2 separate regions of the Homo sapiens genome follow, and region 1 is linked to region 2. The links come from fine-mapping of genetic effects on gene expression. A gene starts in region 2. The other region holds a variant in brackets. All regions are shown on one strand. Distances are from middle to middle. Region 1 overlaps DBF4B (DBF4B-CDC7 kinase regulatory subunit). Region 2 holds the start of DBF4B (DBF4B-CDC7 kinase regulatory subunit).

Evidence for each region. PIP is the estimated chance that this variant, and not a neighbour inherited with it, causes the effect.
Region 1: its variant is fine-mapped to the expression of DBF4B in whole blood (INTERVAL, PIP above 0.99).

Annotation. Positions count from the first base shown.
Region 1 is chr17:44,746,252-44,758,497 of GRCh38, forward strand. DBF4B (DBF4B-CDC7 kinase regulatory subunit) reads left to right here. Exons shown (of 14, transcript NM_145663.3): 11 at 832-940; 12 at 1,140-1,264; 13 at 2,090-2,214; 14 at 4,344-6,013. The coding sequence ends at 5,002. Among named protein-coding and RNA genes, the nearest start is that of ADAM11, 6.6 kb to the right of the region's middle. RefSeq lists an enhancer at 6,809-7,309. The variant A/C (reference allele first, on the strand shown) is at 7,604.
Region 2 is chr17:44,702,256-44,714,501 of GRCh38, forward strand. DBF4B (DBF4B-CDC7 kinase regulatory subunit) reads left to right here and starts at 6,410. Exons shown (of 14, transcript NM_145663.3): 1 at 6,410-6,584; 2 at 7,049-7,111. The coding sequence starts at 6,566. RefSeq lists enhancers at 6,216-6,730, 6,731-7,244.

The sequences.
Region 1 (12,246 bases), 44 kb after region 2:
AAGTCAGGTTTGAGGAAGGTTTGAAAATCCTAGCGGACAGTGAGGACAGCTGTGAGAGATCCAAGGCAGCATGAGAGAAGGGACAGACTGAACCAAGCTGGGGAGACATTCAGGGTGGAAAAGAAGAGCAGTCCCTTCACTGTGGTTGAGACCTTTTCCCTTTCATCTTTCAGGTCTCATGAATGTGGGTGTAGGTTTGAGCACAGAGTTGGAATTCCTACAAGGGATTCTTGCTGCTGCCGTCACCATCCCATCTTCACCTGTCGTTTAAGAGAAGGACGGAGATGGCTGGCGCGGTGGCTCACACCTGTAATCCCAGCACTTTGGGAGGCCAAGGCAGGTGGATCACCTGAGGTCAGGAGTTTGAGACCAACCTGGCCAACATGGTGAAACCCCGTCTCTACTGAAAATACAAAAATGAGTTGAGCATTGTGGCGGGCGCCTGTAATCCCAGCTACTCTGGAGGCTAAGGCAGGAGAATGGCTTGAGCCCAGGAGGTGAAGATTGCAGTGAGCCAAGATCGCACCACTGCACTCCAGCCTGGGTGACTAAGCTAGACTCTCTCAAAAAAAAAAAAAAAAGAGAGAGAGGACAGAGATAAGACAGGCTGCCCACAGGGAGGTCTCCAGACGTCTTCTTCCTTGTTCCCCTCTTGCCATTCTTAGATGATTGGTACCAAGCTCAGGGAAGGCCTGCCTGCCGGTGCCTGCACAGCCCCTTGGCCATCTTGGTCCTTCCCCTCCCTGACCTAGGCTCCAGGCTCTAAGTAGTGGCTCCTCCCCCCAAGGGCCCCAGCAGTAACCACTTTGCCGCACTATGTACCCTCCCCAGAGAATCCAAGGATGGAGAGCCAAGCCCACGATCAGCTGCCCACACCATGCCCAGGAGGAAGAAAGGCTACTGCGAGTGCTGTCAGGAGGCCTTCGAGGAGCTCCATGTGGTGAGCCCCTTCCCCATTAAGCAGCTGCTCCCAGAGTGCCCTGAGGGAGCCTGCTCACTGGGGATGAGTCCTTCCTATGCGATCTCTATGCTGCTATGGCTGTCCTCCAGGGCCAGAGCATGGGCTGGGAGGTCAGCTTCCGTGTCCCCCTCCCCCCAGGCCTCATCTAATGCCCTGTGCTCCTCTCCCCCGCCGGCAGCATCTTCAGAGTGCCCAGCACCGGAGCTTTGCCCTGGAAGCCCATCTATATGCAGAAGTGGACAGGATCATTGCTCAGCTCAGCCACAGCTTTGCAGACATCCCTTTCCAGGCTGGCCTCCCCAGGTGAGTGCCACGCTGGCAGGCACAACTGTGTCTGCTCTCTCCTCTGTTGCCCTCTGGGTGGGAAGAGACCCTCAGGTTGGTGGCTGCTGGGACCAGACTGTGATGTTTTCCTCTTTTCTCACCTTCCTTTCCCCTTATCCTCAGTCCTGTTTGTTTTGGGGCTGGCCAAAAAAAATAAAAAGACCTCCATTTGTGGCTTCACTTGATGAAGACTAGACCCAGACTACACTGTGGCTCCCTTCCAACTCCACAGGCTTTGATGTGGTTGATAAGCAGTTCTGGCCAGGGAGCAGGGGGTTAGTGCTTGGGCCTCTCCTAGATAGGTGAAAAGCAAAGTCTTTCCCCTCTGTAGAAGTCACCCCCAGAAAGAAGGACTGCATGGGGTTTGGTGGGAATTCCAGGGCCCTCTGAGCCCTGCTTCCCCTTGCTGCCAGCAAGGCAGACCCTCTCCCACCTGGGGCTGTGGCTTCACCTCTCACCCCAAATCTCCACCTCAAGCTCAACTTGCACAGCCAGGCACTGCGCTGCTTTCTTCAGCTGCCAAAGGGCACAGCCTCCTCTGTGAAGTCATGAAATGGAATAGCCTCTAACCTATTCCTCTGGCCGGCCCCAACCACAGGCTGCAGAGCCAAGAGAAGTGCACACAGTGCTGGTTGCTGCGGCAGGTTAGACCCAAACAGGAGGACTTTCACACAGGGCCTCAGAGAAGGCAGCTCTCTCGGCACATGAACCGCCAGCTGTGGCAGCTCTCCCTGTGCCCTCAGCCCTGGCCCAGGCCTGCTGTGAAGTTGAAACCTGCAGCTCACAGTGTTTCTGTCCCAACAGGTGGTCAGGTTCCCCAGCTTCTGATTGTGACCCTCTCTGTCCTGAGACTCTGCACCCCCATCAGCCCTCCCATCCCAGGGCAGCATCTCCCAGGATAAGGAAAGAAGACAGCTGCCAGGCATCAGGTATCCCAGAGCAGGATGGGACAGTGGACAGCACGCAGGCACCAGCTGAACGTGCAGGGACTGGTGAGGTACCTGGACCTATAGCAAGCTGCCAGGACCTGGGGGTGTCAGTTGATGTGTTTGTGGACCCCCCAGGGATACCAGTGTCCAGGAGCCCTGCTTGCCAATGCCTCCTGCCTAGCTCTGGTTTTATGGAACTCTCCTCTGGCCCAGACCTGGCACTTTTTGGCCACAAGCGGAAGGTTCAGTTCCCCAGTGGCAGTGCTAAGAAGAGAGTGGGGGCCTCCTGGCCACAGGCTTCATTTTTTGTCCCAATAGCCCCCAACCCCTGCGGCACCAGGACAACTAGTGGCAAGCGTCTTCCCTCTCTTCCCCTTACAGGCCATGAGTCCAGGCTCCTCGCCTCCCTCCAGCCCTTGTGCCACTCACAGACCTGCCTCTCTCTCCCAGACCCCTTCCCCTGGCAGCCCACAGACAGACCAGCAGAGTTCTGGGCCACACAGCCCTCCTGGCTGGGGAAAGGGTGGCCCCCAGGGCCTGAGGATTCTGAGTGTACAGCCACTGGCCCTGTATCCCAGGAGGCTGGCCAGCTCCTCAGCTGCCCCACAGCTCCAGGCTGGCCATCAGCTCCCCTGTACTCAGCTACCAGTGTGCAGCCCTCGGGAGCACCTGTAGAGAGCAGGTCTACCTCCCTCCTGCAGCCCCTGCCAGCCAGTGCGGGAGCCAGCTGTTCCCGATGCCTCTGGGCCCCCCAGCCTCTCCAGGTGCCCTGTCTCCCTGTCTCCCAGCCCTGGTCCCAACCCCAGCCCCAGCCCCAGCCCCATGCTGGCAGAGAGCTGCTCCTACGAGTCCCCAAGGTGCTTGGCTCTTCACAGGGCCAGGCAGCTCCAGATTGAAGGGCCACAGATACAACTTACTCCTCTGCTGGGTGCTGCACACCCGGCCAGGGCTGACCAGGACGCAGGAGGGGCAGAACCCCAGGACTTCCCCAAAAGAGCTAGAAGGAGGCCCGGGCCTGGCCTTTGAAGTCCAGCAAGCAGCTGTCACGCTCAGCTCCATGGAGCTGACAGAGCCACCCCTCCCACTGGCCAGGTCTTTGGGAGAGAATCTGGGCTGGGGGCTGCCCTCTCCTACCCCTGCCTCCTGCCATGTTCCTGACCAGGCAGAGTCTACAGTGGGCTTGCCCAGCTGAGGCTGGCCGCCCACGCCAGGAGGCAGAGGCGAAGTTGGCATGGGGAGGGACCACAAAGGAGCTGGGGCAGCAGGAGTCCTGGCCCGGCTTCCTGGCCCTCCACAGGCCCTTGCCTCTCTGCAGAGCCGCGGGTTAGCTGTTGGTGTGCTCCACCCCCAACCCCGGCCTCCTTTCTCACGAGCATGTGGCCGCTCCTGCTTTCCAAAATGACTGTGTTTGTCCCCTCCCCCAGCCCCCCACGCTCCCGCACACAGATCCTCAGGAACATATGAAGCAGAGGAGGGGCTTGGGCTGCACCACTCACAGAGCTCCCTCCCCCAGGCACTTAGTTGGGGCCCAGCACTGACCTTTCCCCTGAGCCCAGGATGTGGCCAGAGCCCCCTCTGGGACCCCTCTCGCCCCTTCTCTGCCTCCTCAGCTTGAGCTGCCTGCCCGAAGTTCGGCTGTTCCGGGGCCAGTGTGTCACCTGCCAACTTCCACATCACCCTCCTCCCTCGCTCCCTCCTCTCCTTCCCCAAGGACCTCCCCCCATTTCTGGCAGCCAAGCCATTAATCTGGAGACAGAAATGGGTTTGCTATCGATTCTCTGGCCACTTTTTCTTTCATTACAATTTGTACCGTGATTCTTCTCACCCTTCTCTGCGTCCGTGCATTTAAAGAGTTGTCTCTTTAAATGTTGAAGCTTCCGGAAGCCTGATGCTATTCTGTGTCTCCTTTCAAAGGAAGAAGGGGGGGCCCAGCTATGGGTGAGGACTCAAGTTATTAGTTTGGAAATAGAGCAACTATGTGTACAGCCCACCTTAGAGGTCATGTTACCCCCTTCCTGTTAAATTTTACAATTAATTTTGGTTCAGGAAATGTAAATAAATTTGTTAATTACAAATAGCAAAGAGATGGGGCTGGAATGCCATATGTCGGTCCTTGATCTGCCCTCCAGTGACCCAAGGCAGGGCTGCGGGCCAGCAGCGATGGACAGAATCACTAGATGGTGTGATGGGACCTCCTGCAAGTCACACATGTGTGAGTGCCACAACCCTCCTGCCGGCCTTGCCCAAGGGCTCCAGGGAGCAGGGCTGCCTCTGTCCCTGCCCAGCCTCCTTTACCCAGTCTCATCTGGTCACTTCCTTGGCTCTGCTGCCTGGGGAGTGGTCGCCTGCAGAGGACATGCCCCTCCATCCCTCCCAAGAAAACTCCTTTGCCCCGGCGGACATTCCTGTTAAGGGCCCACTCCTCTTCCCTGAAGCCAGACCGTGGCTTATGTCTGCACGCTGCTGGGTTCGTCCCTTTCCTTTTGTGACATGGGGTTGCCTCATTCCCCATGACACCACCCCTCTGCATGAGGAAGTTTCCCCTTGCCCCTGTCTCAGACTTGGATACCTTTACCTGCTGCTCACACAAAGCCTGTGGTGCCGGGTTCGGGTGCCCTCATTGTCAACTGCAGGACCCATTCCCCGAACCTCACATCCGTGTACCCTTGCCTTCCCCTCCTATCTCAATGATCATGACCTTGGACATCTCTGCCAGGCCAAACCCCAAGGCTGGAACACTCCTCAGCCATTTCTCCATTGCGGCTTCCTGGCTGTAGACTCAGGTTAGAGGTGAACCCAGAACACCTGAGACTTGACCCAGGATGGATGGGTGCTGCTTGATGTGAATGAGGTCCCGCAGTGGCTCCTTGGCGTGAGCACTGCTCAGACTCCTTTCCACTCCAGCCCCCTTTCCACATCGCACCAGATGACTTTTACCCAGACCCAGTGGGCATTGCCTTATCTTGCAGTCAGTCCCTTTTCAACATGTTGCCGTTTCTTTCTGAAGAGGTGTCCTCCCTCCACAAGTCACACTGTCTGTCCCTGGCCCTCCAGCCCACCTCGCCAACCACTCTTGTTGGTTTCCTTCTCAGACTTGCCACCTTTCCCCTCTGCCCCAAAATGCCATGCTCCTCTCCTGGAAAACACTTGAGTTGATTCAGTAAATCGACTTCAAATACTTGAAGGCTCCCACCTTCTGTTCTCTGGCTCCTTCCTGCGGTCTATACCTACCGCCTCCTCTTCACCTCCTTCCCTTCCACACTTCCTTCCTGGGTAGCTCTGCCTGAAGCATTCCACTAAGATCATCTATTCCAAGGTCATGGACAGGCTACTGGTGACCAAAGTTGGTTCCTTTTCTCCTTTCTTTCCTCCTTGAAGCCTGGCTCCCTTGGTCGCAGCAGCCCCTCAGTGGCCTGGTTCTCCTGTCCCCCTGCCCTTCCTCACCATTGCCCATTCCCTCGTTCGTTCATTCAGCACAGGCCTTGCCGTCTGCCCTGAGTCAGCTCCGAGACACCTGAAGAGCCCTCCAGCCCTAACTACTTTACTCAGACTAGGTCCCCAGGCCTTTGTTCTTGCCTCTTCTCGCTGAGCCTTTCACTTCTCGGCAGATGTGACCGATTGGTAGCTCCACCCCAACTCCCTTCTGCTGGGTGGAATGCAGGAGCTAGCTGCCTCCAACTCACTGTGACCTCAGAAAAATGCCTTTATTACTCGGGCCTCAGTTTCCTCGTCTTTAAGTAAGGGGCTTGGATGAGATGATTTCAGGACCCTTTCCAATAATAAAATACTGTGACTGCCAGCAAATCTTTTATGTCTTTCCCTATCCTGCCACCAGCAGGAGTGCTGTATACCCGAGCACTCCTTCTCATCCTGGATCTTGGCTCCCCTTCCCAGGGGAGTTTCAGCTGTGCCCAGCTCAAACTGTTTTCTTGATCTAAAAAATGGAGGTAATCTAGGCTGGGCACGGTGGCTCACGCCTGTAATCCCTGCACTTTGGGAGGCTGAGGCGGGCGGATCATTTGAGGTCAGGAGTTCGAGACCAGCCTGGCCAACATAGTGAAACCCCATCTCTACTAAAAATACAAAAGTTAGCCGGGCATGCTGGCATGCCTGTAATCCCAGCTACTCGGGAGGCTGAGGCAGGAGAATCACTTGAACCTGGGAGGCAGAGGTTGCAGTGAGCCGAGATTGTGCCACTGCACTCCAGCCTGGGCAACAGGGCGAGACTGTCTCGAAAATAAATAAATAAATAAATAAATACGAAAAATGGAGATAATCATAGTTGCTACCTCGCTAGGAAATCACAAGAGTGAAATCAGATGTGTTTGTGAGGTATGTGGCACAGAGCTTGGCACATTGTCTCAACAAATAACATATTACCCACAGGCACACATGCCTGTGAGGCCTCCCTCCTAAACTTACATAAAGCTTATTCTCACTAATTCCCACCTGGCAGTGTCCCTTGGTAACTGGCGTCCTCATCTCGGGTGAGCATTTGTGGATGAAGCTGCTGAGGGGCACTGTGAGACCCCCTGTCCCAGGCCCCCTCCCAAGGGCCCTCTCCTGAGCTCCAGGAGGATCCCTTTTGTGGAAAAGAAGTGGCACTTGGGCCCTTATGGGTGTGACTGTATTTGTGCCCCACAGACCTCCCAAAGGATGAGTGTGCCTGGGATCCTGGTGCCCCAGGTGCCCCCAACTCCTCCCTTGGTGAAGCCTGAGAGCTTCAGAGATTAAAAGAGGGGCCACTTGGACGCCTGAGAGGGAGGAGCATGAGGTTTCCCGGGAGAGCTATGCAGATGAGAAGAACGGTCCTTGGACCCTGGGCTGGCATCTAAGAGGAAGCAGGATGAACTTCCTGTCCAAATGCTAGGCACTTCCCCTGCTGCCACCCCTCCACATCACGACATCAGGCACAGGTTCTCTCTGTGCTGGGTAGAGAGAGGACCCCGAGGACCCCAAGCCATAGAGAGGCCTGGGGTCCTGGGCAAGGGCCAGGGAGCCGGTTTGCTCCTCGGCGCCTTGGACGGTGCGAGCCCAGGGTGACTGAGCCCCTTTCATGTGCCAGACGCTGCTCCAAGCATGGGCAGCTCAGCCATCATCCCCGAGAGGAGCACTGTGAGGGGGGTGGTTTTCTAACCCCTGTGTCGTGGATGAGGAAACCAAGGCCCAGAGAGGCCAGCGGGCTTGCTCAAGGTCACACAGCCAGTTTGTGGGGGAGGCAGGATTGGGACCCCAGCCTGGAGACCTGAATCCTGCCCCCTTGACTAGCATGGTCTGTGCTGCAGGACTTAAGGCTGGTCACCAGGCCTGGACGGCCTCCACTGGCAGGAATCACTGCCGGTGGTATCACCCCAGGGCTGGGGGCAACCAGGACCTCTCCCTTACCTGG[A/C]GTTGCGGAGACAAGGTCTTGGCCCTGCATCCCCAACTTGGCCCTTATGCAGGAAAATTTGAGAGAACCGGCTAAAGAGCTAGAAGAGCAGCAGAAGGAAGGAGGCTCCGGCCTCCTAGGGAAGGGGCTTCCTAAGGGAGGCCAGAGACCCACCCCTCAGGGCCCCACAGCTCCCTCAGCAAGAGCAACCCCAAGAGTGGCATCAGGGCAGCAGAAATAGTGGCCCCAGCCTCAATGGATGGACCGAAGGAGCCAGCCATAGCTATGAAGTTGAGGTGGGGCCCCCCAGGGAACCCTATGTTTGAGGGGGAGACACAGGCCTGCCCCGATCTAAGCAGAAAACAGCCCTTGCTATCAGGGTCAGGTCTGATGAGGAGGACAAGCCCTGCTCTTCTGAAGTCCCAGTCTGATGAAGGGCCACCAATGAGAAAACAGACAGCCCTGACCTCAGGAGGGACGGTGGGTGAAAGAACGTGAAGCAAGCTTTCTGTGTGGGGATCCCACAGCTCCTAAGAGAGCTGAGGCAAGCATGAGACAGGGGAGGTGGAACCTCAGGGACTGGGGACTGTGATCAAGGGAGAGGCAAGAGGTCTAGCCGAGGCCGGGTGCCAGGGTTCACAGATGTAATCTAATCCCAGCACTTTGGGAGGCTGAGGCTGGAGGATCACTTGAGTTCAAGAGTTCGAGACTGGCCTGGGCAACATAAAAAGACCCCCGTCTCTACAAAAAGAAATTTTGTTAGCCAAGCATCGGCCTCATGCCTGGTAATCCCAGCACTTTGGGAGGCTGCTCTGCCTCCCAGGTTCACCCCATTCTCCTGCCTCAGCCTCCCGAGTAGCTGGGACTACAGGCGCCCACCACCACGCCTGGCTAATTTTTTGTATTTTTAGTTGAGACAGGGTTTCACCGTGTTAGCCAGGATGGTCTCGATCTCCTGACCTCGTGATCCACCCGCCTCAGCATCCCAAAGTGCTGGGATTACAAGCTTGAGCCACCACGCCTGGCCTTGAATGGCTCTTGAGTCCAGGTGTTGAGAACAGCCAGGACAACATGATGAAACCCAATCTCTACAAAAAATACAAAAGTGCTGGGCACGGTGGCTCACACCTGTAATCCCAGCACTTTGGGAGGCCAAGGTGGGCAGATCACTTGAGGTCAGGAGTTCAAGACCAGCCTGGCCAACATGGTGAAACCCCATCTCTACTAAAAATACAAAAATTAGCCAGACATGGTGGAGCACACCTGTAATCCCAGCTACTTGAGAGGCTGAGGCAGGAGAATTGCTGGAACCCGGTGGGAGGAGGAGGTTGCAGTGAGCCGAGGTCATACCATTGCACTCCAGCCTGGGCAACAGAACAAGACTCCGTCTGAAAAAAAAAAAAAAAAAAAAAGCCAAGCTTGGTGACGCCACCTGTAGTCCCTGCTACTCAGGAGGCTGAGGCAGGAGATGACTTGAGCCCAAGAGGTCAAGGTTACAGGAAGCTATGATTGTGCCACTGTTCTCCAGCCTGGGCAACAGAGCGAGACCCTCAAAAAATTAAAAAATAAGGTCTATTGCCTGCAATCCCAGCACTTTGGGAGGCTGAAGCAGGCAGATTGCTTGAGGCCAGGAGTTTGAGAACAGCCTGACCAACATGGCGAAACCCCATCTCTACTAATAATACAAAAATTAGCCAGGCGTGGTGGTGCACACCTGTAATCCCAGCTACTTGGGAGGCTGAGGCAGGAGAGTCACTTGAACCCAGGAGAAGGAGATTGCAGTGAGCCGAGATCATGCCACTGCACTCCAGCCTAAGCAACAGAGTGAGACTCCCATCTCAAAAAAAAAAAAAAAAAAAAAAAAAAAGATCGGCTGGGTGCGGTGGGCTCACGCCTGTAATCCCAGCACTTTAGGAGGCCGAGGTGGGTGGATCACCTGAAGTCAGGAGTTCGAGACCAGCCTGACCAACATGGAGAAACCACATCTCTACTAAAAATACAAAATTAGCTGGGCATGGTGGCACATGTCTGTAATCCCAGCTACTCGGGAGGCTGAGGCAGGAGAATTGCTTGAACCTGGGAGGTGGAGGTTGCGGTGAGCCGAGATCATGCCATTGCAACAAGAGCGAAACTCCAGCTGGGGGTGGTGGCTCACCCTGTAATCCCACCAGCACCCTGGGAGGCCGAGGCGGGTGGATCACGAGGTCAGGAGATCGAGACTATCCTGGCTAACACAGTGAAACCCCGTCTCTACTAAAAACACAAAAAAATTAGCTGGGCATGGTGTTGGGCACCTGTAGTCCCAGCTACTCGGGAGACTGAGGCAGGAGAATGGCATGAACCCGGGAGGCGGAGCTTGCAGTGAGCCGAGATGGCGCCACTGCACTCCAGCCTGGGTGACACAGCGAGACTCCATCTCAAAAAAAAAAAAAGAGCGAAACTCAATCTCAAAAAAAAAAAAAAAGAAAGTTCTAGGCCAGGCATGGTGGCTCACACCTGTAATCCTAGCACTTTGGGAGGCAGGCAGATTGCCTGAATTTAGGAGGTTGAGGACAGCCTGGACAACATGGTGAATTTAGGAGGGTGAGAACAGCCCGGGCAACATGGTGAGATCCCATCTCTACTAAAAATACAAAAAATTAGCCAGGTATGGTGACACATGCCTGTTGTCCTAGCTGCTCGGGAGGCTGAGGCAAGAGAATCACTTGACCCCAGAGGTGGAGGTTGAAGTGAGCCGCGATCTTGCCACTTTACTCCAGCCTGGGTGACAGAGCGAGACTCTCCAAAAGAAAAAAAAAAAATAGTAAGTTCTAGCCGGGTGCGGTGGCTCACGCCTGTAATCTCAGCACTTTGGGAGGCCGAGGCGGGTGGATCACGAGGCCAGGAGATCGAGACCATGCTGGCTAACATGTGAAACCCCGTCGCTACTAAAAATACAAAAAAAAAAAAAAAATAGCTGGGCGTGGTGGCGAGCACCTGTAGTCCCAACTATTCAGGAGGCTGAGGCAGGAGAATGGCGTGAACCCGGGAGGCGGAGCTTGCAGTGAGCCGAGATCGTGCCACTGCACTCCAGCCTGGGCGACAGAGCCAGACTCTGTCTCAAAAAAAAAAAAAAAAAAAAAGTAAGTTCTAGCCAGATCTGCTGGGAGCCGGGGAACCCAGGAATATAAGTGGCTATGGGGGCCAGGGAGCCATATGACCGAGTCTCCACTGGAACTAGCCCAGGGTGCCACCAGGGAGAGTCACTCTTAGGGCTCATCAGGTCTCCCCAACAGGAAGTCTAGGGTCCCAGGGCCACCGATGTGGTAGGAACATGCCTCTGGTGAAGAGGCCTGGACCACAGATTGGGCTTGCTCTGTGGTCTTGAACATGTTGGAGGACCCAGACTCTCCCAGCCCCGGGCTCGCACTGTGAAATGACAAACCTCACCCAGCCTACTGGGGGGCACTCCTGATCGGGACTTGCTGATGTGGCCCTGGGACATGGGCAGGCTGGAGCAGGACAGCCACCTTCGTGTCTGGGGTGTGTGGTGAGGGTGCATGGGACCAGATATACCAGTCCCCTCTGGTCCCAAATGGAGGGCAGAGATGGAAGTAGGACTAGGGGTGGCTAAGAGGAGTGGGGCCATGGAGTATGGGATGTGCCTTTCACCAGCTGTGTGACTTTGAGAAGCTCACATAACCTCTCAGAGCCTCAGTTTCCCCATCTGTAAAATGGGGAGCACAATCTCTCCCTCTGGGCTCATGATGAGTTTCCAGGAATACCACCTAGTAGGCCCTCATTCCCAGGAGCCTCCTCATGCCTACATCTTGGAGGAGGTTCTCAAGATGTCTCCAGAGCGAAGGAAGAATTGGCTCAGCCTTACTGAGCATCTGGGCCTGGCATGGCAGGTGGTTGGGGGTGGGGGGAGTCACTTGGTTCCCTACATTGATGTCAGCGCCTCCTGGGAAATCGCCTTCTCACCTCTCCTGGGCCTAAAATAGAGCGGGGGGTGGGGGTGTCACAAGCTAGAGGCAGTTCCCTCATCCCCAGCAGAGGCCCTGGGTCCTTGCGGAAGCAGAGGACCCAGGAAGGGGTTTCCTGCCTCCAATCTTGTTCTTCAGCAACCTGTGGTCCCCTAGCATGGGTACCAAAAAGGTCAGGGTGGGGACTCAGCGGCCCACCCACCATGCCCTACCACACCCCACACCATCTCAGGTATCTGGCCTTCAGCACCCCTAGCAGAAGTCTGAGGTCCCAGCCCTGGTATTGGGACCCAACATCCCCAGGAGCTGGGTGGAGGGCACAGCTGGGAATGTAGGTTGGGAGGTCAAGTATTTTGCAGACAGGGCAGCCTAGTCTGACCAGAGAGGGAATGCTGGGGGGCTCCAGAGGTGTCTTCTGCTCCTAAGGATTGGGACTAGCAAGGGAGGGGGAGCCATGGGGCATGCTAGCAGCATATAAGTGACCTGGCTAGTTTATATTTTATCTAGGAGGAAGGACAGGACGCCTGTGAGAGACTCAGGAACCCAGACGGACATGCCAGCCCTTCCTGATGGTTGGAGTGACAGCGATCCCTGAAGCCCTCCTGGAGGCCGGGGCATCTTTGGCGGGGAGAAGGAGCCGATGGGAAGGGGTCTGTACCGCGGGCGTGAGAGGACTCCGCAGTGACACGACCCGTAGCG
Region 2 (12,246 bases):
GTGCAGTGGGGCCATCTCAGCTCACTGCCACTTCTGCCTCCTTGGTTCAAACAATTCTGCTGCCTCAGTATCCCAAGTACCTGGGATTACAGGCACACACCACCATGCCTGGCTAATTTTTATATTTTTTAAGTAGAGATGGGGTTTCATCCTGTTGGCCAGGCTGGTCTTGAACTCCTGACCCCAAGTGATCCGCCCACCTTGGCCTCCCAAAGTGCTGAGATTACAGGCATGAGCCACCATGCCTGGCCAAGGCACACCTTTCTTTGGAGACCACCGGCCCAGGATAAACCTAGAAGAGTGTTAGACTGAAGGGCAGGTACCTTATTGGGTACTAAATTGCTCTCCCAAGGTTTGCCCCAGTTTTATACCCCACCCTTTTCTTTGCATTTTTACTAGAATTTGGTTTTAATACACATTAATTTTTGCAGATCAAAAGTTATGAAGTGGCATTTAATTATTGTTAAATTGGTATTTTCCTAATTATTAGTGAGTCGTAGCATGCTTTATGTTTATCAGCCCTTAAAATGTCTCATGTTTGTATTGCCCGTATTTTTCTTTTGTGTTATTTGTCTTTTCCACATTGATTTTTAAGAATCTACTTTTTCTTTTCCATTTCATTAATTTCTATCCTTTGCTATTTCTGACTGTCTACAGCCTTTGGGCTCACTGTTTTGTTCATTTTTCTGACTTCTCAAGTTGAACACTTAGCTAATTCATTTTCAATTATTCTTATTTTCTCTTTCTTACTTCCTTATTTTCTTTTTCTTTCTTTCTTTTTTTTTTTTTTTCTTTTTAAGCAACAGAGTCTTGCTGTGTTGCCCAGGCTGGTCTCGAACTCCTGGTCTCAAACAGTCTGCCTGCCTCGGCCTCCCAAAGTGCTGGGGTTACAGGCATAAGCTACCACTCCTGGCCTAAATTTAACTTTTAGATTTGGGGGTACATGTGCAAGTTTGTCACAAGGGTATATTGTGCAATGCTGCAATTTGGGCTTGTCGGTGGGGGGTGGGCAGGGTGGGCTGGGGCAGAGTCTCCCTCTGTTGCCCAGACTGGACTGCAGTGGGGCAATCACAGCTCACTGCAGCCTTGACCTCCTGGGCTCAAGCGACCCTCTCACCTCAGCCTCTCCAATAGCTGGGACCACAGGTGCATACCTAATGCTCAGCTAATTTTTTATTTTATTTATTGTAGAGAAAGGTTCTCCCTATGTTGCCCAGGCTGGTCTCAAACCCCTGGGCTCAAGTGATCCTCGGGCCTTGGTGTCCCAAGTGTTGGGATTACAGGCATCAGCCACCACACCTGGCCTGGGCTTCGAGTGATCCCATCACCCAGATAGTGAACATATTACCCACCTTCCTCTCTCCAGCCTTCCCTCCTTTTGGAGTCCCCAGTGTCTATTGTTCTCATCTTTATGTCCATGTGTATCCAGGGTTTAGATCCCACTTAAAAGTGAGAACATGCAATATTTGGTTTTCTGTTTCTGTGCTAATTTGCTTAGGAGAATGGCCTCCAGCTACACTCACATTGCTACAAAAGACATGATGTTTTTTTTTTTTTTGAGATTGAGTTTTGCTCTTGCTGCCCAGGCTGGAGTGCAATGGCAAGATCTCAGCTCACCGCAACCTCTGACTTCCAGGTTCAAGCTATTCTCCTGCCTCACCCTCCCGAGTAGATGGGATTACAGGCATGCGCCACCACACCCGGCTAATTTTGTATTTTTAGTAGAGATGGGGTTTCTCCATGTTGGTCAGGCTGGTCTCGAACTTCCAACCTCAAGTGATCCGCCCACTTCGGCCTCCCAAAGTACTGGGATTACAGGCGTGAGCCACTGCCCCCAGCAATTTCATTATTTTTTATGGCTGTATAGTATCCCATGGTGTATATGTACCACATTTACTTTATCCAATCCACCATTCACGGGGTACCTAGGTTGTTTCTATGTCTTTGCTACTGTGAATAGTGTGGTAATAAACATAGTGCAGGTGTCCTTTTGGTAGAATGGTTTATTTTCCTTTGGGTATATACCAAGTAATGGGATTGCTGGGTCACATGATAGTTCTATTTTTAGTTCTTTGAGAAATCACACTGCTTTCCACAGGGGCTGAACTAATTTACATTCTCACCAACAGTATATAAGCATTACCTTTTCTCCATAGACTGGCCAACATTTATTATCTTTTGGCTTTTTAATAGTAGCCATTCTGACTGGTATGAGATGGTATCTCATTGTGGTTTTAATTTACATTTCTCTGATGATCAATGATATTAAGCATTTTTTCATGTTTGTTGCCACTTGTATGTCTTTTTTTAAGATATGTCTGCTCATGTTTTTGCCTTTTTTTTTTTTTTTTTTTTTGAGACAAGGTCTTGGTCTGTCGTTCAGGCTGGAGTGCAGTGGCATGATCTTGGCTCACTGCAGACTTGACCTTCTGGCCCAGGTGATCCTCCTACCTCAGCCTCCCAAGTAGCTGGGGCTGCAGGCATATGCCACCAGGCCTAGCTAATTTAAAAAAATTTTTATATAGATGGGCCTCCCTATTTTGCCCAGGCTGACCTTGAACTCCTGAGCTCAAGTAAAGCCTCCTACCTTGGCCTCCCAAAGTGTTGAGATTACAGGCATGAGCCCCTGCATCTGGCCTTTGCCCACTTTTTAATTAGGTTTTTTTGTTGTCGTTGATTTATTTAAGTTCCTTATAGATTCTGGATATTAGTCCTTTGTCAGATGCATAGTTTGCAAATATGTTCTCCCATTCTGTAGGTTGTTTACTTCATTGATAGTTTCTTTTGCTGTGCTTTGGAAGCTCTTTAGTTTAATTAGGTGCCAGTTGTCAATTTTTTTTTTTTTTGTCGTAATTGCTTTTGAGGACTCAGGCTGATATCTAGACAGTATTTCCTAGGTTTTGTTCCAGAATTTTTAGTTTGATGTCTTACATTTAAGTCTTTCATCCACCTTGAGTTAATTTTTGTATATGGTAAGAGGTAGGGGTCCAGTTTCATTCTTCTGCATATGGTTAACCAGTTTTCCCAGCATCATTTATTGAACAGGGAGTCCTTTCCCCATTACTCATAGGTGTACAGCTTTATTTTTGGGTTCTTTATTCTGTTCCATTGGTCTATGTGTCTATTTTTATGCCACTACCATGCTGTTTTGGTTACTGTAGCCTTGTTTAGTTTGAAGTCAGGTAATGTAATGCCTCTGGCTTTGTTCTTTTAGCTTAGGATTGCTTTGGCGATTCAGGCTCTTTTTTTCATTCTATATGCATTTTAGAATAGTTTTTTTTTCTGATTCTGTGAAAAATTACATTGGTAATTTGATAGGAATAGCACTGAATCTGTAGATTGTTTTGGGCAGTATGGACATTCTAATGATATTGACTCTTCCAATCCATGATCATGGAATGTTTTTCTATTCGTTTGTGTCTTTTATTATTTCTTTCAGCAGCAGTGTTTTATAGTTCTTGTAGAGATCTTTCACCTCCTTGGTGAGATGTATTCCTAGGGATTGTTTTGTGTGTGTGGCTCTTTTTTTTTTAATGAGACAGAGTCTCGTTCTGTTGCCCAGGCTGGAGTGCAGTGGGGTGATCTCGTCTTACTGCAAGCTCTGCCTCCCGGGTTCATGCCATTCTCCTGCCTCAGCCTCCCAAGTAACTGGGACTACAGGCACCAGCCACCACACCTGGCTAATTTTTTGTATTTTTAGTAGAGACGGGGTTTCACCATGTTAGCCAGGATGGTCTCGATCTCCTGACCTCGTGATCTGCCCGCCTCGGCCTCCCAAAGTACTGGGATTACAGGTGTGAGCCACCATGCCCGGCTGGCGCTTTTTTTTTTTTTTTTTTTGACAGAGTCTCGTCACCCAGGCTGGAATGCAGTGGTGTGAGCTTGGCTCACTGCAATCTTCGCCTCCTGGGCTCAAGTGATCCTTGTGCCTCAGCCACCTGAATAGCTGGGATTACAGTTGCACACCATCACTCCAGGCTAATTTTTGTATTTTTAGTGGAGATGGGGTTTCACCATGTTGGCCAGGCTGGTCTCGAACTCCTGGCCTCAAGTGATCCACCCTCCTCAGCCTCCCAAAGTGCTGGGATTACAGGTGTGAGCCAACATGCCCAGCCTGTGTGTGTGGCTGTTGTACATGAGATCACATTCTTGATTTGGCTCTCAGCTTGAACGTTATTGGTGTATAGAAATGCTACTGATTTTTGTGTGTTGACTTTTTTTTAATCCTAAAATTTTATTAAAGTAATTTATTGGGTCTAGGAGCCTTTTGGTGGAGTCCTCATGGTTTTCTAGCTATAGAATCATATCATCAGTAAGCAGAGATAATTTGATTTTCTCTTTACCTATTTGGATGCCTTTTGTTTCTTTTTCTTGCTGATTGCTCTGGCTAGGATTCCCTAAATACATTTATATTTTAAAGTATTTTCATTTTTTGGAGTTGCATAGTGTTGCACAGTATGACTACACCATAATTTATTTAACCTACTGCCCGTTGTTAATCAATATTTTCGTTGCTTTTGATCTTTTGGTATTGCAAACAATGCTGAGGCAGATACCTTTATTATACAAATTCTGTCACACATGTGAAAAAAGAACATGCTGAACCATCTTGCCTCTTAAAGTTTCTGCTTGGAAGTGATGTCACTTTTTTCTTTTTTCATGAGCCAAAGCAAGTCATATGGCCAAGGCTTCGTTCGTTCATCAGGGCTGAGATGTATAAGCTTCCTCAGGGAGGAGTCCCACTGGAAGAGATACCAAGTTTATGTACTGTATATACCTCTACCAGTGTTTAAAAAATATCACCCTGGGCCAGGCGCGGTGGCTCACACCTGTAATCTCAGCACTTTGGGAGGCCGAGGCGGATGAATCACCTGAGGTCAGGAGTTCGAGACCAGCCTGGCCAACCTGGTGAAACCCCGACTCTACTAAAATACAAAAATTAGCCGGGCATGGTGGCAGGCACCTGTAATCCCAGCTACTCGGGAGGCTGAGGCAGGAGAATGGCCTGAACCCGGGAGGCAAAGGTTGCAGTGAGCCAAGATTGCGCCACTGCACTCCAGCCTGGGCGACAGAGCGAGACTCCCTCTCAATAAAAAAATAAATAAATATAAAAACTATCACTCTGGTTGCTGAATGGAGAATGGATTATACTGGGGAGAGATAGGAAGCTACTCGGGAGTAGAAGTGAAGAATTGACCGCAGTACTTTAGGCAAGAAATGATAGCAGCTTGAACTAGGGTGGTGGTGGTCTGATTCCAGATGTACTTTGGAGGCAGAGTTAGTAGGATTTTTTTCTTGGAGTGGGGATGGGCACAAGGGAAAGTACTGAAAGACAACTTCTAGGTTTTTGGTTTGAGCAACTGGGTGAATGATTGTGACATTTGAGTAAACAGTAACATTTTACTGAGAGGGGAAGACCTGGGGGGAGAACAGGTGGTTTTTTGACAGGGGCAGCGAAACAAATGTTCTGTTTTGAATGTGTTCAGCCTGAGGTGCCTATTAGACATCCAAATTGAAATAGCCAGTAGGCACTTGAATATGTGAGTCTGGAGATCAGACAGGTCAGAGCTACAGAAAATCTGAAGGTGTGGCAGAGCTGAATTGTAAAGCTGTGGAGCTGGATGAGATCTCCTAGGGAGATAAGGGAGAGGGATAAGGGCTAAAGCGTTGGCATACTCCAAAATATATAGGTGAACAGTGGCTTTGGATCCAGCAAAGGGGACTGAGGAGGAACCATTGAGATAGGGAAAAAAACGGTAGAGTGCTGAGTCATGGAAGCAAAAAGAAGAAAGTATTTCAAAGAAGGAATAGTCCATCTATAAGTTGGATATGATAAGGATAGTATTTCAGACTGTGGAAATCACAGTTGACCTGGATAAGTACAGTTTTTGTGGGGAGGTCCCCAGCTCTCCACTGAATGATCTCTTATTAGATCAAATTTGATCTCTAATTAGCAGTCTAATTAGATGGGTTGAAGAAAAGATGGGAAGTGAGGGATAAAGATACGTCTTTTGAGAAGTTTTGTTGGGCAGGTAATAATTGAAGAACGGGAGGGGGACAAAAATGTGAAGATGAAATGATGTGTAAGTGAAATCTTTATGTAAACTGCAAATGCTCTGCAAGTGTTAGGCTTATTTTGTTATTTAGTATTCAAACTTCTAGGAATTTCAATGCAGCTCAGTGTGAAGAATCACTAAAAAGCGACCACTAGTCCTCAACTTGAGGGCCATTAAGGGGCAAAGCCGTCTAGCCAGTGAAGAGCCAAGAAATGAAGAGACGGTTTGAGAAGACGTAGGCGGTGGGGGAACGGAAAGAGGAATCGCGAAACTAATATTGTCCTTCCAAGGACACCGTAGGGCGGATCTCGCAGCTACGGCGTTCTTTTAGGGGTGGAGCCGGCAGGAAATTTAAACTGAAGCCGCGGCCGAAAACGCCAAGAGATTGATGCTGTAGCTGCCCTGAGATAACCAGGACTGTGGAATCGGGAAGAGCTCATGGAGCTCGCGAATGTAATACGGAGGCCTCTGAGGAAGGAGTACGGAGGCCGAGAAGGAGCCGGCATTTGATGAGCGAACCGGGAAAGGGTACGGATGCCGGGAAGGGGAGAAAGAAAGGCGGAAGGGGTCGTTAATAGCTGAGGCGAGGTGCGGAGTCGTGGAGGGGGCTTAGGAAGTGACCAGCGGGTAGGTGCCGAAGCTGAGGAGGGTATAGGGGCCGGGAAGGAGCCACAGGAGTTGAGGGGACCGAGGAATGAAGGTGGCAGAGGAACGTAGGGGACAACAGCCTGGAGGGATGTATGGAGATTGAGATGGACAGGAGGTGGCCAAGAGGTCACGGCCGTTGACTGAACGGAGTCTGAAAGGAGGCGGAGGGCATGAGGGGCAAGAGCCTGGCGGGAGTCGCGGGATGTAGGTCGGAATGGAGTTGAGTCTTGCTGTTCCCAGGAGTCGCGTTTCTGTGCGCGTTTTGGGAGACAGTAGTGGGCGGGAGGCATGGAAGTTCCAAGGGTTGGTGAAGATGGTTGAGTTGCTGTTATGTCCTTTCTCAGGAGACGATTGCCTCGAGCTGGAGAGTTCCATGGCTGAGAGTAGGCTCCGGGCCCCGGACCTAGGTGGGTAACAGGACAGAACTAGGGACGTGAGGTGAAAATTGCCCCAGGGTCTCTTGGAGAAGACCGAAAAATGTTCCCCCTGTTGGAGTTTTCGATCACTCAGTGTTTTTATGTACTTATTTATTCATTTTATTTATTGGGATGGGGTCTTGCTGTGTTGGCCAAGCTGGTCTCAAACTCCTGGCCTCAAGCAGTTCTCCTGCCTAGGCCTCCCAAAATGCTGGGATTACAGGTGTGAGCCACTTCACCAGGCCCACTTAGTGGTTTTATGTGTGTGTGTGTATGGACGCAGCATCATAGACCGTTTTGGGATTCATGATAAAGGTCAAGTAAGAGTCATATTATGAACAAGATTAACAGACAGATGTGGAGTCAGGATAGAGTGACTTATTAAATATATAAATTAATACATTCATAGTTGTTTACAATAAAATCCTTAAGTTAAACACTGCTACCTAATTAGGTAAGTATTTTAGCACATGGCACTTCCCTCCGTACTGCCCCTTTAGTTAATATCATCTAGTTGGCCGGGCGCGGCTGCTCACGCCTGTAATCCCAGCACTTTGGGAGGCCAAGGCGGGCGGATCACGAGGTCAGGAGATTGAGACCATCCTGGCTAACACAGTGAAACCCCATCTCTACTAAAAATACAAAAAATTAGGCGGGCGTGGTGAGGCGTGCCTGTAGTCCCAGCTACTCAGGAGGCTGAGGCAGGAAAATTGATTGAACCCAGGAGGCGGAGGTTGCAGCGAGCCGAGATTGCGCCACTGCACTCCAACCTGGGCGACCGAGCGAGACTCCGTCTCAAAAAAAAGAAAAAAAAAATACCGTCTACTTTTACTTCTGGATTGTTAACAGATATGCCATCGGCTTGTTGCCTTTTAAACAGTAATCCACTTCATTTACTGAGTTATTCATTCTTCCCATCTCTTGTTGGTTTTTTTTCCCCCTTCTGTTTCTCTGGAGAACTTCAAGAGTGTTTTCAAAAGGAGGCTTTGTGTGATAAACTAAGAATATATTTATTTCAGCCTTGTAGTAAAATTTAAGTCAATTTTTTTTCCTTCAACACATTGAAAAATTACAGTATTTTCTCCTTGTTTTCTTCAGCATTTCTTTTTTATTCTTGCTGCTTTGTAAGTGACCTCCTTTTCTCATTAGATGTTTTAGATTATGTGAACCTATGGATTATATTGATGAAAGAAAAAAATGTTTTATTTTATTTATTTTGAGGTCTTGCACCCAGGCTGGAGTGCAGTGGAGCAATCATGGCTCACTGCAGGTTTGGCCTCACCGGGATCAAGTGATCCTCCCACCTCAGACTCCCAGGTAGCTGGGACTGCAGGCACTCAACACCACGCCCAGCTAATTTTTTTTTGTTGTTTGTTTTGTAGAGACGAGGTTTTGCCATGTTGCCCAGGCCGGTCTTCAACTCCTGGGCTCAAGCGATCACCCTCCTCAGCTTCCCAAAGTGTTGGGATTACAGGAGTGAGCCACTGCACCCAGCCCAATATTTTAGATTATACATTTTTATATTTGTTCTTAAAATTTACTATAAGATGATAATGTGTGGATTTTAGAGGGTTTTTATTTTCGTTTTTATTCCAGTTTGATTTTTTTTTTTTTTTTTTTTTTTTTTTGAGACAGAGTCTCGCTTTGTCGCCCAGGCTGGAGTGCAGTGGCACCATCTCGGCTCACTGCAACCTCTGCCTCCAGAATTCAAGCAATTCTTTTGCCTCAGTCTCCTGAGTAGCTGGGATTACAGGAGCACGCCACCATGCCCGGCTAATTTTTGTATTTTCACTAGAGACAGGGTTCCACCATGTTGGTCAGGCTAGTCTTGAACTCCCGACCTCATGATCCACCTGCTTCAGCCTCCCAAAATACTGGGATTATAGGCGTGAGCCACCACACCTGGCCTCCAGATTGATTCTTTAAATTTTTTTAAATTATTATTTTATTTTAGAGACAAGAACTTGCTCTGTTACCCAGGCTAGAGTACAGTGGCACAATCATAGCTCACTGCAGCCTCAAAGCCCTGGGTGCAAGCAATTCTCCTGCCTCAGTCTCCCAATCTCCTGCCTCAGTCTCCCAAGTAGCTATGTCTTCAGGTGCATGTCTCCACACCTGGCTTCCTGTTTGATTCTTGACATAGCTTAAAAGGCAGGCCATGTGTGGTGGCTCACACTTGTAATCCCAGCACTTTGGGAGGCCAAGGCAGGCGGATCACCTGAGATCAGGAGTTCAAGACCAGCCTGGGCAACGTGGTGAAACCCTGTCTCTACTAAAAATACAAAAAACAGAGCCGGGCGTGGTAGCTGACACCTGTAATCCCAGCACTTTGGGAGGCCGAGGCAGGGGGATCACGAGGTCAGGAGATTGAGACCATGGTGAAACCCCATCTCTACTAAAAATACAAAAAATTAGCCGGGCGTGGTGGCAGGCACCTGTAGTCCCAGCTACTCGGGAGGCTGAGGCAGGAGAATGGCGTGAACCCGGGAGGCGGAGCTTGCAGTGAGCAAAATTGCACCACTGCACTCCAGCCTGGGCGACAGAGCAAGACTCTGTCTCAAAAAAAAAAAAAATTAGCTGGCGTGGTGGCAGGCTCCTATAATCCCAGCTACTTGGGAGGCTGAAGCAGGAGAATTGCTTGAACCCAGGAGGTGGAGGTTGCAGTGAGCCGAGACTGTGCCATTGCACTCCAGCCTGGGCAACAAGAATGAAACTCCATCTCAAAAAAGAAAAAAAAAAAAAAGCCAAAGTTTCTCACAAAAAACAGGAGGCATGAGAGTTAATCCCCTTTCAGGCTGTCTGATTCCCACTTCCTAAGAAACAGCCATTTACAGCTTTTAACTATTTCTTCTAGAAGCTACCACCTTATTTCTGTAATAATATGCTCATACTGTTTTAATTGTTTTCCATTTTGAATTATGTCTTCTTTTTTTTTTTTTTTTTTTTTTTGAGACGGTCTCACTCTCATCAGGCTGGAGTGCAGTGGCACAATCATCTCGGCTCACTGCAACCTCTGCCTCCTGGGTTCAAGCGATTCTCCTGCCTCAGCCTCCCAAGTAGCTGGGACTACAGGCACGTGCCACCATGACTGGCTAATTTTTTGTCTTTTTAGTAGAGATGGGGTTTCACTGTGTTAGCTAGGATGGTCTTGATCTCCTGGTCTCGTGATCCACCCGTCTCAGACTCCCAAAGTGCTGGGATTACAGGCATGAGCCACCACGCCCAGCCAAATTTTTTGTATTTTTAGTAGAGATGGGGTTTTACCATGTTAGCCAGGATGGTCTCGATTGCCTGACCTCACGATCTGCCCTCCTCAGCCTCCCAAAGTGCTGGGATTACAGGTGTGAGCCACCACACCCGGCCTGTCTTCTTTTTTTTTTATAGAGATGGGGTCTCACTGTGTTGCCCAGGCTGGTCTTGAACTCTTGGGCTCAAGTGATCTGCCCACCTCGGCCTCCCAAAGTGATGGAATTACAGGCGTGAGCCACCATGCCCAGTCAATTTTGAATTATATCTATTGACTGTCTTCTATGGACAATAAAGATTTTTTCTGTCCTACCACTTCTCTGCACCACACACAAACGCACATGCATTTCCCACCTTTCCTTTTATCTCCCCAGTATATATGTAGTAATTTTGATTTAGTCATTTGTATTGACTTTTTTTTTTTTTTTTTTTTTTTGAGACAGAGTCTTGCTCTGTCGCCCAGGCTGGAGTGCAGTGGCGTGATCTGGGCTCACTACAAGCTCCGCCTCCCGGGTTCATGCCATTCTTCTGCCTCAGCCTCTGGAGTCGCTGGGACTACAGGCACCCACGACCAGGCCCGGCTAATTTTTTGGTTTTTTTTAGTAGAGATGGGGTTTCACTGTGTTAGCCTGTATGGTCTTCATCTCCTGACCTCGTGATCCACCTGCCTCCGCCTCCCAAAGTGCTGGGATTACAGGTGTGAGCCACCACGCCCCGCCGACATTATTTTCATTATGTAAACATTATTCGGCCGGGCGCGGTGGCTCATACCTGTAATCCCAGCACTTTGGGAGGCTGAGGCAGGTGGATTACCTGAGGTTAGGAGTTTGAGACCAGCCTGGCCAACATGGTGAAACCCTGTCTCTACTAAAAATACAAAAATCAGTAGGATGTCGTGCACGCTTGTAATCCCAGCTACTTGGGAGACTGAGGCAGGAGAATCACTTGAACCCGGGAGGCAGAGGTGTAGTGAGCCGAGATCATGCCGCTGCACTCCAGCTTGGGCGACAGAGAAAGATTCCGTCTCAAAAAAACAAACAAACAAAACATTATTCATCACTGAGCTATATAATAAGCTAGGAGATTTTCTTTGTTTTTTTATGTATGGATCACTAATTCAGGTCCAAACTCTTCACCAGAGTATGGGCCTTCTCTCAATACTTTCAAGCTCATCAGAGGATCTGTCAATTTGTCTTGGAGACATAGCGTTTTAGTACTCCAGTCTGGCCTGGCTGTGTACTAGGCCTATTGCACTGATTTCATCCTCCGATCTCCCCTCGTTATTCTGTGGAATTCTTTTTGCCTCTTTCCTGTGTTGGATCTCCTGTATTTTAAATTCTATATTTTTTACACCATGGAATACTACTTAGCCATAAAAAGGAACAAAATAAGTTCTGCAGCAACTTGGATGGAGCTGGAGGCCATTACTGTAAGTGAAGTAACTCAGGAATGGAAAACCAAATACCATTTAGTTTTCACTTGTAAGTGGGAGCTAAGCTGTGAGGATGCAAAGACATGCAAAGTCATATAATGGACTTTGGGGATTTGATGAGGGGGAAGGTTAGGAGAGGGGTGAGGGATAAAAGATTACATATTGGGTACAGTGTACATTGCTTGGGTGACAGGTGCACTAAAATCTCATAATTCACTGTAGAACTCATCCAGGTAACCAAAAACTACCTGTACCCCAGAAGCTATTGAAATAAATAATACTTTTGAAAATGAAGTATAAGTTTGGGGAGCCCCACAGCAATATTTGGCTTTCCTGAAATTCTGTATAAATTTAGACAAGACTATCTCAACATTTATCCATCTATATGCCGATGTGGTAACAGTCTCTGTATGTTTTTTGTGTTTGTTTTTAACTTTCACTAAACAAG